2 linked regions of the Homo sapiens genome follow. The protein of the gene in region 2 interacts with the protein of the main gene of each other region in a pairwise test. Each region holds a gene or a part of one and is shown on either strand. Other genes may lie near its edges.

Region 1 (6,363 bases), on a different chromosome or scaffold from region 2:
TGTGAGCACTTGACTATGAAGGACACTGATGGGACAACTGGCAACTTGAACGGGGTCTGTGGGTTAGATGGTAATATACCAGTGTTAATTTCCTGGTTTTGATCACTGTGTTGTGGTTAAGTAAAAGAATGTCCTTGTTTGTAGAAATTACACACTGAAGCCTTTAAGATCATGAGACAGCACTGGCTCCATGGTTCAGGGAAAAAGGTTCTTTGTACTTTAACTTTTCCTGTAAGTTTGGAATTATTTCAAAATTTAAAAATTCAAAATAGAATCATAAAAGTAATATTTTTCATAATAAACAAGGGTAGCCTTTGTTAAAAAATCAGAAAAGCTGATATCAAAGTTCATTCTCTTATGTGGACTTAAAAATCAAAGAATAATTAGCTCCAAAAGAAAAGATTTGCCAAGTAAGATGTTTTTCTCTTACAAAATGGAAATTTAACTTCTAAATTTACTTCACATAACTTGCAAATGTAACCGGTTTTCTTACTTGGACATTTTTCATTTTACCAACTTTATTTTCTTTTGACTTTTCCAGGTATTCAGAGTTGATGTTTTTCCTAAAATAAACCACAGACTATATTTGGGACTATATAAGAGATACTAAGAAGTACAAAGGGCTCTTTCTCTTAAGTGTTATGAAAAAGACTTTGAATTTAAATAAAGCTTACAAAGAAATCATAAAACTAATTTTAAAATGCTTTTATGTAGGCAAAAGGGAAACTATAGTACTCTCACTACTTAATATTTCCAGTTCTGCCTAAAACAAAGACATACATTAATTTTTAACAATCTTTGTCTCAAAATTCTAGGAACATTTGGAAGAAGTATTTAAAGCTAATGCTTACTCTTTGCGTGAAATTTTATATAATCTCAGGAATAGAAATTTAAGAAATAGAAATCTTCTCATTTCAGTTTGCTAAGCACATTCTTCATTCTTACATATTACAGGTCCACTAGATTCAAAGGTAAGCCAAAAATACCATGCAAAAGACTGCCTCCTAAATTATTTAAATCTCTTTTGTAGCAAAATTTTCCCAGAAACTGAGGAACATCCACACAGAAATTCTTACCTTTTTATCAAAAGTTTGTTATCCTTTTCTCATTTTCTGGGCCTTTCAATGCATTGGCATTGACAAGAGTGAAAAAATTATTTGCTGTTATTTGCATATCAAACACATGGTTTCAACGTGGTATGAAACTATGTTGGTTCCAACGTGGCTGACTCCTTTGTGTCCATTAAAACCATTTTCCTCATATCTAAAGTGAATCTTGGTATCTGTGATTTATGTTTAATATAGAGATGGGAAATGGTTAGTAATCTAATACTAGTCAAGTCACATGTATTCTTAAAAAAAGCTCAAATAGTTGAATTAGGGTGATGGAAATTATACTCAAATCTGAAATTGTAATGAGGCTCCTTTCTGAAACTTAAATGACCCATTCATTTTTTTTAGGTTTAGCTTAATGTTTTTCCTCTTCATAATACCAACTGAGGTTTAACTTAATAACAAATGGTAACTATATAAGATTGTATTAAATAGTCTTGGGCTATTTTTTGGTAAGCTCTTTGATTTGGTAACTACATTCCAAAAGTTAATTATCAGTTACATGAGTTTAAATGGCATCCATAGCTGCCCCTTCACACAAACAGGTGCTCAGTAATAGGGCTTATTAGAAAGACCCTAGAAACCAAGAAACTTCAGTTCTAGTCCTCAATATAGAAGTAGCTAACAATTTTGGATAAGTCATTTAACTTCTAGTCTTTGGTTTCCATATTTATAAAATGGAGACAATATCCTATCTACTTTAATAAGGTATTATTAAAATGTTTATAATTGGATAATATATTGAAGCATTCTGAAATAATACCAGTTCGTCTTTGTTTAGCAATCTCAATTTTTCAAATTCTTAACCCTGGGATTGAAGTTATTAAAGGCACTTGTTTCTCCTTATTTAAAAGATTTATGAAAGGCTCCTACCATGGCATGCCTTGGCTCCTACGGTTTTACTTTCCCTCCACAGGAAACCTATATTGACAATTTTAGATTGTCAAAATTCTTTCTTAATGAAAGTATTAATGAGAATTATTTCATTATTCATAGTTTGGTTAAGATTTATGACAAATCACAGCCAAAAGAACTTCATTGGTAATAGCTTGTTTGAGGCTTCCTGGGGAAAATAATGATGTCAGATTTGCATTTGCAATCTTAGACTATTATAGGATATTATGCTGCATAAATCTAGATATAACTTTTATTCAGATAATTTACAAAAATTAGAACATGATTTTAAAGGTGGTATATCTCTTGTGGAGGGAAATCTTGCTGAAATTACAGCTTCTTAGGTTAACAGAGAATGTGTCCTGTTTGTGCACCTCTCTAAATGAAAGAATTAAGGAGAATTATTTCATTATTCATAGTTTGGTTTGTGGGGGTGAAAGAGGGAATGAGAAAAATCCTAAGACATCCTTGGAACAATTTAACACAAAATATACACATATATAGATCCTGAGATGTTACAACAAATTAACAATTATATAGATCAACATGATCCAAATAGTTTTCAAGACACCGTTATGGTGGGTAAACAGCCATTTTACGGCATGTGCTCCATGGATGTCCACATCATGCCAGGAAAACCATACTCTTTGTCTCCAAATTTGAAAGCTAGTCATCCAGAGCAGGTGGCCAGTCAACATCTACAGACTAGAAGGGAGAAAAGAAGTCATTAAAACAGATATTACTGTTGTGGTAAGCATTTGCTGGTAATGCTGTATAAATTTAATAGTTTTAATATAGTGCAACAGAAGAAACTGCATTTGAAGAAAAGAGCTATTGAATACCATAAATTAACCCTCAAGTCTGTTCTAGGTATTCTTGGGCCTGAGGTCTTCTGAATTAATTGAGTAGCAGTATTTGGCTACTCAGTTGGTTATTAACTGTGCTTTTTGACTGATAAGAGAATACATTTAAATTTTTTAAATGGTATTTATGGGGCCAGGTGTGGTGGCTCACACCTTTAATCCCAGCACTTTGGGAGGCCGATCAATTATATAGATCAACATGATCAAGGTGGGCAGACCACTCAAAGTCAAGAGTTCAAGACCAGCCTGGCCAACATGGCAAAACCCCGTCTCCACTAAAAATGCAAAATTTAGCCAAGCATGGTGGCACACGCCTGTAGTCCTAGCTACTCAGGAAGCTGAGGCAGGAGAACAGCTTGAGCCCAGGAGGCAGAGGTTGCAGTGAGCCGAAATCACGCCACAGCACTCCAGCCTGGGTGACAGAATGAGACCCTATCTATCTCAGAAAAAAAAAAAAAAAAAAAAGTATTTATGGGTAAAAGTAGCAAACAAATTCAAGTGACCACCAATTTTCCCTCAGAAGTCTCAGAAACTTTTATTCTTCTGATCATTTTTATTCTCTCATCTTGCATTTAACAAATATTCAAGTAGTCTATAAGCCTATAGTCTTGTTGTAACACAGCAACAAAATGTGAAATAAATGATTATGAAAGATGACCTGGAACCAGAAAAGGATTAAGGATCTTTGTGCTTCAGTTCTGTAGAATTTCTGTTTCTTTAAAATCCAGTTCATCTATCTCTACTTACCTTTATTTTGTTCTTCTAGGACAAAACCTTGATCTTTGAGTCAGAATGAAATTACAGTAAACAGACTATTTGTCTCCACATAAACACATACCAGGTCTATCAAAGGCTAGGGGATCTACTTTAAGAGAAAGTTAAAAAAAAAAAAAAACCCACCGTATCTATCTGTGGCTTTTATTGACATTTAAAGTTTAAAACATAAAATTATTTACTGAAAATTTTTTCATTAATCCATGAGTCACTTCACGTACTGGCTTCAAAAAAAATTTATTAGAAAAGCCTAAATAGCTATGTGTGTGTGTGTCTTTTACAAATCTCAAGAAGATATTTTTGTTCTGTTTCAGAATATAGCCATATACCAAACACCCAAATGTAAATTAATGAGTGTTTTCTCAAGCTGAAAATAAAACATGACTGATCACAATCTTGTGTGTGTGTGTGTGTGTGTGTGTGTGTGTGGAGGGGAGGCAAGTTGTAGTGCTTAAAAAGCTCCACAAGTGATTCCAGTGGGCAGTCAGTGTTGAGAAACACTGGCCTGTGAGTCTTTGACACTCCTAACTGTTCTGAGAATTAAAGTAAAAAAAGATTAATGCAAGCCTGGGCAACACGGTGAGACCCCATCTCAACAACAACAACAACAAAAAAACGCCAGGCATAGTGGCTCATGCCTGTGGTCCCAGCTACTCGGGAGACTGAGGCAGGGGATCGCTTGAGCCCGAGAGGTCAGGGTTGCAGTGACCCGTGATCGCACCACTGCACTCCAGCCTGGGTGACAGTGCAAGACCCTGTCTCAAAAAAAAAAAAAGATGATGAGTAGAGATTTTCTTTAACAGAAGGTTTTCTTCCTCCAAATGATAGTTTCACTGAAGAGGCTCCCTGCAACCTTGAGGGCACGATCACTGGCTGTACTGCAGGAGCTAATCTAATCCCAGAGCACTTGAGAGAATTGCTGGTAAGGAAGTAATACTCCAGTGATCATTTGATTACCATAGATGTTTTCACATTGGGCAACTATGCCCACTTCTTTCTATAACTTTGATATTATTCCCAAGTACAAATCCCCAAGTCCTAAGATTCTGGGGAGAGGAGCGGGGGAGGTACTCTATTCCTAGTCAGATTTTCATGAAGAAACACCACTCGTGACTCAACACCTATTGATACTCAAATGAAATATTTATGGAGACTTGCCCGACAGAACCATTCTTACAATTACTTTAGAATTTAACCTTGTTTCAATTCAGACTGTAAGAGCAGAGAACTTGGACCACATCACAGGGGTCCTTATAGAACTGCTTTTATGAAGAACCATTGGCTCACCTCACTTTCTACCCTTGTGAATCCATGTTTCTGAATATGCTGCTTTAAAGTCTTTATAAAACGCAACAGGTATGGAAATGACTATTTCCGTGCTTGGTTTAAGGGTTTAGATTTGATACTACATGTAAAGCACAGTTAATAAATTAGCTATATATTTTCAAGGAACATAAATGAGACCTCATATTAAAAAAAAAAATCCGAAGACAGTCCCTCCCTTCAATACAATGTTACTGTGAGATTTTCACCATTCTCAAATACCTATGGAGGTGGGTGATACTAAAATGGCTTAATGCCAAAGAGCATAACTTTGGTTGAATTCAATTTGCCAATGTGCATTCCACAACAAAATGGTTTACCTCAACATCCAGCTCCAGAATGTCTGCAGTCACATTCATCAGGGACCCAATGTTTGGCTTGGTTCTCCCGAAGTCTCCATGTACAAACTCTTTAATGTAGCTGGGGTTTGTTTAAGGAAAAAATGAAGACAGCATGCTGTACCAACTATTTGGTAAGATTTGACAGGCAAAAATAATAATAAGAGCAGAAATGTTACAAAAGAAAGGTTACTTCTGAGCTCTGACTTGTGTGTCTTAAAAAATAAGCTTTGGCAATGTGGTCCCTAGTAGCCTGGCAGCCAACATCAGAGCCTGGGAAATGTGTTTACATCAAACTTACCAAAAATCATTACTTTCTTTTTTCTTTATAGCTCATCTCCAAGTGCCAAGGTTTGGATGTGGATTTTAAAAATTAACCATAGCTCAATGCTTTTATTAAAAAACAACTTTGCCACAATTTCTATGTTATTATCTTGTTAGTCCCATTTTTTTAATAATGGCAACTGTCACCTGCCAGATGGTAGGTTTCCACAGAGCCACACAGAGAGTGATCTCAATGATGGCATTCCTTGTAACATGACCCAGAGGCAATAGGGTGGAAGGAATAATGAGACTATTAGTTTAGTCTTAATGATGGCTCTTCGGAAGGATTACCAAAGACCTACCGTCTAGTTTGCTAACATGGTTAGCAAAAGAACTAAGTTAATTCTCTCTCTCTTTCTTAAAGGGGCAACTTTGTATTTCTCTCAAAATTGTATTTCAAATTTTGAAATCAATAACTAATTCTAGAATTTGTTTTTAAGATTAACATTCCTTACATAGGACTGTACTGCAGCTTTGACAATATTTATCTAAAAGATTTGTTTTTGCCAGAATTTGGTAAAAATGCAGCATTATGTTTTGTTCTACAAACCAGCATTTAGTAGAAAATAATTAATGGAACTTGAATAGAGAAATAAATTTGTTTCCAGATGATGAAAAATCTATATTATAATATGCTGATATTATGTCCTCACTTTCTGAACGTTTTACTCACTCTACCTTTGCCAAATGTTTTGACTAAAGCATAAGACATATAATTATCTAGTAACTGTGTTT
Region 2 (9,222 bases):
CCCTGCATTGCAATTCTACCATCCTAAAACTGTTGTGGGAAGTCAGGGACCCCGAATGGAGGGACCAGCTGGAGCTGTGGCAGAGGAACATAAATTGTGAAGATTTCATTTTAATATGGACATTTATCAGTTCCCAAATAATACTTTTATAATTTCTTATGCCTGTCTTTAATCTCTTAATCCTGTTATCTTCGTAAGCTGAGGATGTACATCACCTCAGGACCACTGAGATAATTGTGTTAACTGTACAAATTGATTGTAAAACTGTGTTTGAACAATATGAAATCGGCGCACCTTGAAAAACAACAGAAAAACAGCGATTTTAGGGAACAAGGGAAGACAACCATAAGGTCTGACTGCCTGAGGGGTCGGACAAAAAGAGCCATATTTTTCTTCTTGCAGAGAGCCTATAAACGGACGTGCAAGTAGGAGAGATATTGCTAAATTATTTTCCTAGCAAGGAATATTAATATTAATACCCTGGGAAAGGAACGCATTCCTGGGGGGAGGTCTATAAACGCCCGCTCTGGGAATGTCTGTCTTATGAGGTTGAGATAAGGACTGAGATACGCCCTCGTCTCCTGCAGTACCCTCAGGCTTACTAGGGTGGGGAAAAAACTTCACCCTAGTAAATTTGTGGTCAGACCGCTTCTCTGCTCTCGAACCCTGTTTTCTGTTGTTTAAGATGTTTATCAAGACAATACGTGCACTGCTGAACATAGACCCTTATCAGTAGTTCTGCTTTTGCCCTTTGCCTTGTGATCTTTGTTGGACCCTTATCAGTAGTTCTGCTTTTGCCCTTTGCCTTGTGATCTTTGTTAGACCCTTATTAGTAGTTCTGCTTTTTGCCCTTTGAAGCATGTGATCTTTGTACCTACTCCCTGTTCTTACACCCCCTCCCCTTTTGAAACCCTTAATAAAAACTTGCTGGTCTAAGACTCAGGTGGGCATCACAGTCCTACTGATATGTGATGTCACCCCCCGGCAGCCCAGCTGTAAAATTCCTCTCTTTGTACTCTTTATTTCTCAGCTGGCCAATACTTATGGAAAATAGAAAGAACCTACGTTGAAATATTGGGGTGGGTTCCCCCCGTATCAAAACACATTTTTGCTAAGATGTTTCCTTCATCAGAATGCCTTCCCATGTACTCTGCTGGAATCCTACCCAATCTATCAAGGCATAGGCCCATCACCACCATCTTTTTGATGTGTGCCCTGATCCCCACAGCTGAAATACAACCTTGAATTGTATCACTCTTCATAGTTTAGAGAACATAATACATGTCATTTTATCCTCATAGCAGCTCTCTGAGATATCTTTATGCTCCTTCTACAAACTGAGCCCAAGTGCCCTGGCAAGGTCACTGCAGCCAACAACAGAAGTGGGGATTCAAATGCAGGTCTTCAGGCTCCAAATACCCTGTGCATACCCCATTCCACTAATGCTACCTTTAAAAACCTCTACCTCCCAGGGTGCTCTCAGGGTGATTTATATTTCAATAGCACACTAACCCCAGGTCCATTGTATATTAGAGTTGATATAAGTTGGTGAAGGGAGGGAACCTCATCTTGTTTATCCCAGTATCCCCAAAGTACTTACCATCTTCTTTACATATAGCATAAATGTATCAAGTGATCAAACTGAATTTAATTCATTGAGGGTTTTTTTTTTTTTTTGGACAAAGTCTCACTCTGTCACCCAAGCTGGAATGCAGTGGCATGATCTCGGCTCCCTGCAACCTCCACCTCATGGGTTCAAGTGATTTTCCTGCCTCAGCCTCCCAAGTAGCTGGGATTACAGGTGCCCGCCACCATGCCCAGCTAATTTTTGTATTTTTAGTAGAGCAGAGTTTTGCCATGTTGGCCAGGCTGGTCTCGAACTGCTAACCTCAGGTGATCTGCCCACCTCGCTCTCCCAAAGTGCTGGGATTACAGGCATGAGCCACTGCACCCAGCCTTCATTGAGGTTTTTTATTTTCCTTTATGGCAAATTCCAAAATTACTGCTGGAGTCAGCACCCCAGAAGCAGAACAGGGTGGAGGTTGGAAGTGTGGGGTCCTCCCTGGGCAAATCACTCAACACCTCTATGTGCCTGAGTGTCCTTATTTGTAAAATGAAGATCATAATTATGCCTTCTTCATAGGGTTGTTGTTAGGATTAAATTAAACAATGTACTTAAAATACCAAGCCAGGGCCTGGCACACTCAATATATACCAGCTATTATTATGTATTCCATTTTATGTCTCCCATGGCCAAAAATTACTGATCTCAAAATTAATTACTCCGAATCATCAAGAGAAATTTAGATACTGTGGAATGTAAATTAAGCTGCAAGGACATTTACTTAGTATATTTTATAAAGATATCCCTGGAATCCTTTTTATTTGAAAACCCCATTACATAAAACCCCTAGTTATCTGGGAAAATACTTTACACTGAGTGACTCAATTTACATTATATGAAAAAACCAGGTATTAATATTAAGGGATATACAAGTGAGATGGGCATGACGGAATTTTTTTACCTTCCCCCTTAATTTTGCAATGACTAACATTTTTCCTAAGCCAAGTACCAGGTGCTAGTCAAAAGTTTTAGCAATGAGATGTGTCTGACTCTTTGCCCTGAAGGTAAAGAACAAGCAGGGACCAGAGTCATGGACCACTTATCTACCCCTTTTAAAGGTCTGCACGAAGCACATATTCAATCTTCAAGGAATTTACAAATGATGTAGTCAAATAAATAAATACAAAGGTGTTTACAGACACTGATGACTTCACTGGAATAAACAGCGGTTACTGTGCCTGAATTTTTTTTTTTTTTTTTTTTTAGACAGAGTCTCACTCTGTCGCCCAGGCTGGAGTGCAGTGGCACGATCTCAGCTCACTGCAAGCTCCGCCTCCCGGGTTCATGCCATTCTCCTGCCTCAGCCTCCCGAGTAGCTGGGACTACAGGCACCCGCCACCACGCCCAGCTCATTTTTTTGTATTTTTAGTAGAGACGGGGTTTCACCGTGTTAGGATGGTCTCTACCTCTTGACCTCGTGATCCGCCCGCCTTGGCCTCCCAAAGTGCTGGGATTACAGGCGTGAGCCACCGCGCCCGCCAACTGTGTCTGATCTTAACAAGGCAACCGAAACACCACACCTGAGTGAGTTACACTGATTCTTACCCAGTAAAGACATGTTCGGTAAGTGAAAGCCTTTGTATGCAACAGGTCATTTCTCTTACTGGGTCATTACTGTAAAACGAGAGGGTAAGAGAAGGAATTTCTAAGATTCCTTTCAGATCCAAACTCTATGATTCTGTAATCTCTCCTGGGCCCCACGAAGATGAGGAAGGCAAGAAGGGCTGTTGTGACCCACAGCAAAGGCCAAGCAAGCAAAAGTGAAATTCTGGGCGCGGTTAAACTTAGAGCGATCAAATTAGTTTGCAGGAGTTAAGACTGCAGTCAGGGTGGTAAGGAAAAACGAGGCTGGGCAGGACTGGTACAGGACAGGCATCTTTGAACCTATTTCTGGGAGTTCTGAAACTACTGTTCTCGTGGGCCTTGGCGACTGATTTGGGAAAGCTGACCCTGGGTTGGCCTGGCTTCCAGCCACCGTCGCAACATAAACAAGCCAATTCAAAACAGGGTCGCAGTCTTTGAAACTAGCTGAGGCAACAGATCCCCTCCACACTTCGCGGGCCCCACGATCGCCCCATCAAACACCATTATCCCTCTTCCCATCACACTCCCGTCCGCCCGAGGCCGGCGGACCTGCAGCGGCGGCGGGATGGGGTTGGATAGAATGCGGCCCGGTCCCGGCCCAGCGGAGCTGGGGGAGCCGTTCCCTTCGGTCCTGTGCCCACCTTGGTACTGGGGTCCGCGTCGGAGCAGCAACTGAGGGCGGCCTCGTCCGTGAGGCCGCCGGACGGGGGCTGCGGTTCTGCCATGGCTGCGCTGCAGTATCACAGACGACGGGACCCAAGGAACGGAGGAGTCACCCACACTACGCCTCGGCCCTGTGCCGCCTTAACTAGGAATGGCGCGATGGCGCCGCGGGCGGGAGACCGCTGACTTCCAGCCAATCGCTGCGCGGAGAGCAAGTTGACTCTCTGCTGATTGGGTCCCAGTGAGTCAGCGCCTCCACCCACAGGACTATGCCTCAGACTACAACTCCCAAGGAGCCTTGCGCATAAAGGAGGCAAACTCATACAAAAAAAAAAAAAAAAATGCAGGCTGGGCAGAGTGGTTTCTCTGTTACTTAATGAGCTAATTTTGTTTGTTTAACTAAAGTTTGGTAACCATTCATACCTCAGGGCTGCAATTTGGTAGAAAATTGGAATCTGATGGAAACTGAAAACTGTAAGTTGTTCTTTTAAAATTGTAAGGATTCAGAGGTTTCTCAGTTTACGCAGCGCAGAGTAATTAAAACAATTGTTGAGTCGAAAACCTATGTTCAAGTCTTGGTTCCGCTATATATTAGCGCTAGAAACTTGCAATAATTACTGACCCTCTCTGAGCTTCCTAACAGGATTTGTTGAGAATTAAATAAGTTTTCTTTTCCTTTTTCTTTTTTCTTTTCTTTCTTTCTTTCTTTTTTTTTTTTTTTTAATTTTTTTAACAGTGTCTCGCTCTGTCGCCCAGGCTGGAGTGCAGTGGTGTGCTCTCAGCTTACTGCAGTCACTGCTGCCTCGACTTCCGGGGCTCTAGCTGTCCTCTGGCCTCAGCCTCCCGATTAGCTGAGACTACAGGCTGCAAAACCAAGACCAGTTAATTTTTGTATTTTTTTGAGATGGGGGTTTCACCATGTTGCCCAGGCTGGTCTCAACTCCTGGGCTGAAGTGACCCTCCCGCCTCAGCCTCCCAAAGTGCTGGGATTACAGGTGTAGCCACTGTGCCCAGCCTAAATGAGATTTAAGTCATGGTTTGCCTACTTAGGTTCCAAATGTCCATAACTTGCAGTACTTTTTACATTAATATATATTTTGTGTTCACTGGAAGGCTTAGTCATCACTGTGTCTTCAATGATTGGCTCATAATAGTAGATGCTCATTAAATACTTCCTGTTGTTAAAAGAATAAATGGGAATGACTGGTGCTCACCTAACCAAAATGAGGTTGGGCAGGGATGTATATGGCACTAGCCACCTGGCCACCACCAAGATGTCCCCGTCTCTCATCTCAGCTTTTTTCTGCATCGCAGCTTCAGTTTGTCAGACACCAGCTCCATAAGACTAGAAATTTGGCAGCTGTTCTCTCACTAGGAGTGGGAGTAAACTCTCCCTCTGGATTTTATCCAGCCAGCCTGGATTTTATCAAATTGGAAAATCCAAGAAGGAGCTGTGATTGGCCTGGCCTAGGACCTGTGCTTACTCCTGTGATTGAAGCACTGCGATTGGCAACCTGGATTAGGACCACCTGATTGGAGTTTGGGGAGGATCTGTTAGTTCCCTAAAAGAAGAGCGATGATGTTCTTATGAGAAGGGAGGATTGCCAGGCAAACTGAACCATGGATGTCCACTGCAAAATGATAGGCAGGATAAGGATTTCAGCAGAAATGTTGTGCATACCTCATACTAACTTACTGAGGATATTTCATCAAAACACAGTCTATTAGAACTGCAGGACTTCTATATGGAACTAGACCTTAAACCTTTTAAACTCGGGAATTGGAGCAATACACAAACTCTCCATATACTGTGTGTTACCACTGAATTATTGAAAAGACCCCCAAATTGTCTTCTTTTGCATTAATTTTCTTTTTTAGATGGAGTCTTCCTCTGTCGCCCAGGCTGGAATGCAGTGGTGTGATCTTGGCTCACTGCAACCTCCACCTCCTGGGTTCAAGCGATTCTCCTGCCTGAGCCTCCCAAGTAGCTGGGATTACAGGCACCTGCCACCATGCTGGCTAATTTTTGTATTTTTAGTAGAGACACGGTTTCACCATGTTGGCCAGGCTGGTCTCAAACTCCTGACCTCAGGTGATCCGCCCACCTCGGCCTCCCAAAGTGCTGGGATTACAGGCATGAGCCACTGTTCCCAGCCCTTTTGCACTAATCTTTCTGGTGAGCTTCTCAGACTATGTGAGATATAAAGCATGTAAATGAATAGGAAGACTCAATATCATAAAATATCAATTCATTTACTAATTAATCTGTTCATGTAATGAAATTCCAATAAAAATCCCAACAGAGTCCTTTCTTTCTTTCTTTCTTTCTTTCTTTCTTTCTTTCTTTCTTTCTTTCTTTCTTTCTTTCTTCTTTCTTTATTTGTTTCTTTCTTTATTTCTTTCTTTCTTTCTTCTTTCTTTCTTTTCTTTCTTCTTTCTTTCTTTCAAGATAGGGTCTCACTCTGTTGCCCAGTGTGGAGTGCAGTGGTGCTGTCTCAGCTCACTGCAGCCTCAACCTCTCAGGCTCCAGCAATCCACCCACCCACCCACCTCAGCCTCACAAATAGCTAAGACTATAGGCATGCACCACCAAAACCAGATAATTTATTTTATTTTAGTTTTTGTAGAGACAGCATCTCACTATGTTGCCCAGGCTGGTCTTGAACTCCTGAGCTCAAGTGATCCTCGCACTTTGGCCTCCCCAAAGTGTGATTACAGGTATGAACCACTGTGCCTGGCCCAGGGGTTTTCAATTAAAATGAACAAGCAGATTCTACATTCTATTTTTAGGGCCCCAAATAGGAAAGATATACTGAATAATAATTAAGTAGGGGAACATTCTCTACCGGATAACAAGACTTTGTACAAGCTACAGTAATTAAGACAGGATGAAAAAAAAAAAAAAGACAGTATGGTAGGGAGGCTGGCATAGATCAACAAATGGAAACTGTAGTAGACCACTCTAAGATAACCCCAATGATCCCCACCTCCGGGTCTTCACAGTCTTGTCTGCTTCCCTAACCTTGAGTATGGGCTGGATTTGGTGGCTCACTTCTGATACAAAGAGCATGATAGACATGATAAAGTGTCACTTCATGTCATTTCTGAGATTAGAGAATGAAATGTTGTGATTCTTATCTTGGGAGCTCTGTCACTTTCTTTGATCTCTCACTTGGAGGGTAAGCAAGTTGTCACGTTGTGAGCAACTCTAAGGAGAGATGCATGTGGCAAGGAACCAATGTCTCTGGTCAACAGCCAGTGAAGGCCAGACACCTGCCATCAGCTACACAGTAAAATTGCAAGTGGGTCCTTTTTCAGTAGAGCTTCAAAATGACTGCTGCTTTGGCCAACCTCTTAGTCACTGTCTTGTGAGAGACCCTGATCCAGAACTACCTAGCTGGACCATTCCCAGATTCTTAAACCACAGAAACTGTGAGATAATAAATGTTTATTGTTTTCAGCTGCTAAGTTTTGGAATAAGTTGTTGTGCATTAATAGGCAACCAATATACACACATACCATGTTTGTGTCTCTGTGTGTGTGTATATATATATAAATTTGGTATGTGTTATCTTACTGCTAGTGGGGAAAAGATTATTTTTTCAATGAATGGGGTAAGGACAATTGATTATGTATGTGATAAAAAAAGATCTCTATTTCATACCATAAAGGAAAACGTAAGTCCAAGAGGATTATAGACATAAATGTGAAAAGGCAAAACTTAAAACCTTGAAGAATAAAATATTAGAAAATGCCTTTGTGAATTCATGGTAGAAATTTCTTAATGAAGGCTGGGCGCGGTGGCTCACTAGCACTTTGGAAGGCTGAGACAGGTGGATTGCCTGAGTTCAGGAGTTTGAGACCAGCCTGGGCAACACAGTGAAACCTCGTCTCTGCTAAAATTCAAAAAATTAGCCAGGCGTGGTGGCGTGTGCTTGTAGTCCCAGCTACTCGGGAGGCTGAGGCAGGAGAATTGTTTGAACCTGGGAGGCAGGGGTTGCAGTGAGCCGAGATCGTGCCACTGCACTCCAGCCTGGGTGACAGAGCAAGACTCCATCTCCAAAAAAAAAGAAAGAAAGAAAGAAAGAAGTTTCTTAATGAGATATAAAAGCACGAAGTATAAAAGAAAGCTAAAACACACCCTAAAAGGTAAAAAGTTAAACCATAGACCAGGAGAAAGTATGGGCAACACACATAGCCAACAAAGGTTCAGTATCCAGAATATGTAAAAACTGTTAGAAATCAATGAGAAAGAGACACATAACTCGATAGAAAAAAATGGCCAAAAAGAAGAATAGGCAATTTACAAAAGAGAGAATAGAAATAGCATATATTCATATGAAAAATTGCTCCAAGTCTGCCCTACGTAGTGAAACCCCACCTCTACTAAAAGTACAAAAATTAGCCAGGTGTGGTGGCACATGCCTGTAATCCCAGCTACTTAGGAGGCTAAGGTAGGAGAATCACTTGAACCTGGGAGGTGGAGGTTGCAGTGAGGTGAGATCACGTTACTTGGGCGACAGAATGAGACCCTGTCTCAAAAAAAGGAAAGAAAGGAAAGGAAGGGAGGAAAGAAAGGAAAGGAAGGGAGGAAAGAAAGGAAAGGAAGGGAGGAAAGAAAGAAAGAGGAAGGAAGGAAGGAGGGAGGGAGGGAAGGAAGGAAGGAAGAAAGAGAGAGAGAAAGAAAGAAAGGAAGAAAGAAAGAAAGAAGGAAAGAAAGAAAGAAAGAAAGAAAGAAAGAAAGAAAGAAAGAAAGAAAGAAAGAGAGAGAGTCCGGGAGTGGGGGCTCACGCCTGTAATCCCAGCAGTTTGGGAGGCTGAGGCAGGAGGATCACGAGGTCGGGAGTTTGAGACCAGCCTGACCAACATGGTGAAACCCCGTCTGTACTAAAAATACAAAAATTAACCAGGTGTGGTGGCATGTGCCTGTAATCCCAACTACTTAGGAGGCTGAGGCAGGAGAATCACTTGAACCCGGGAGGCAGAGGTTGCAGTGAGCTGAGATCACGCCACTGCACTCCAGCCTGGGTGACAGAGTGAGACTCTGTCTCAAAAAAAGTAAAAGAAAAAAAAATTGCTCCAATTTTCTGGTAAATAGGTAAATGCAATTTAATATAGAAATGAGTTTTCTTTTATGCTCTTGAGATTGACAGAAATTAAAAAATTAAAAACCTGTCAATATCAAGTGTTGGTGTGGATGTAGAACAGCTGAAATGCATAAACACTTGCTGGTGGACACACTTTGGAAAGTAATTTGGCAGTATCTAATGAAGTTGAAGAGAGTACATCCTGGGATCCACTGCTAAGTATATATCCTAGAGGGTTATTGTGTCTGCACTCCATGAGACATA

What was found. Proteins that work in one complex are often made in the same cells at the same time.
Region 1: the proteins of GLO1 (region 2) and PUS10 interact in binary tests that used the Homo sapiens proteins (3 or more experiments, as listed by UniProt).

Annotation. Positions count from the first base shown.
Region 1 is NC_000002.12:60,939,723-60,946,085, forward strand, and holds the end of PUS10 (tRNA pseudouridine synthase Pus10), read right to left. Parts: intron 5,387-6,363; coding exon 5,287-5,386; intron 2,712-5,286; coding exon 2,673-2,711; 3' UTR 501-2,672; downstream 1-500. UniProt on the Homo sapiens protein: Protein with different functions depending on its subcellular location: involved in miRNA processing in the nucleus and acts as a tRNA pseudouridylate synthase in the cytoplasm.
Region 2 is NC_000006.12:38,699,122-38,708,343, forward strand, and holds the start of GLO1 (lactoylglutathione lyase), read right to left. Parts: upstream 4,025-9,222; 5' UTR 3,934-4,024; coding exon 3,850-3,933; intron 1-3,849. UniProt on the Homo sapiens protein: Catalyzes the conversion of hemimercaptal, formed from methylglyoxal and glutathione, to S-lactoylglutathione. Involved in the regulation of TNF-induced transcriptional activity of NF-kappa-B. Required for normal osteoclastogenesis.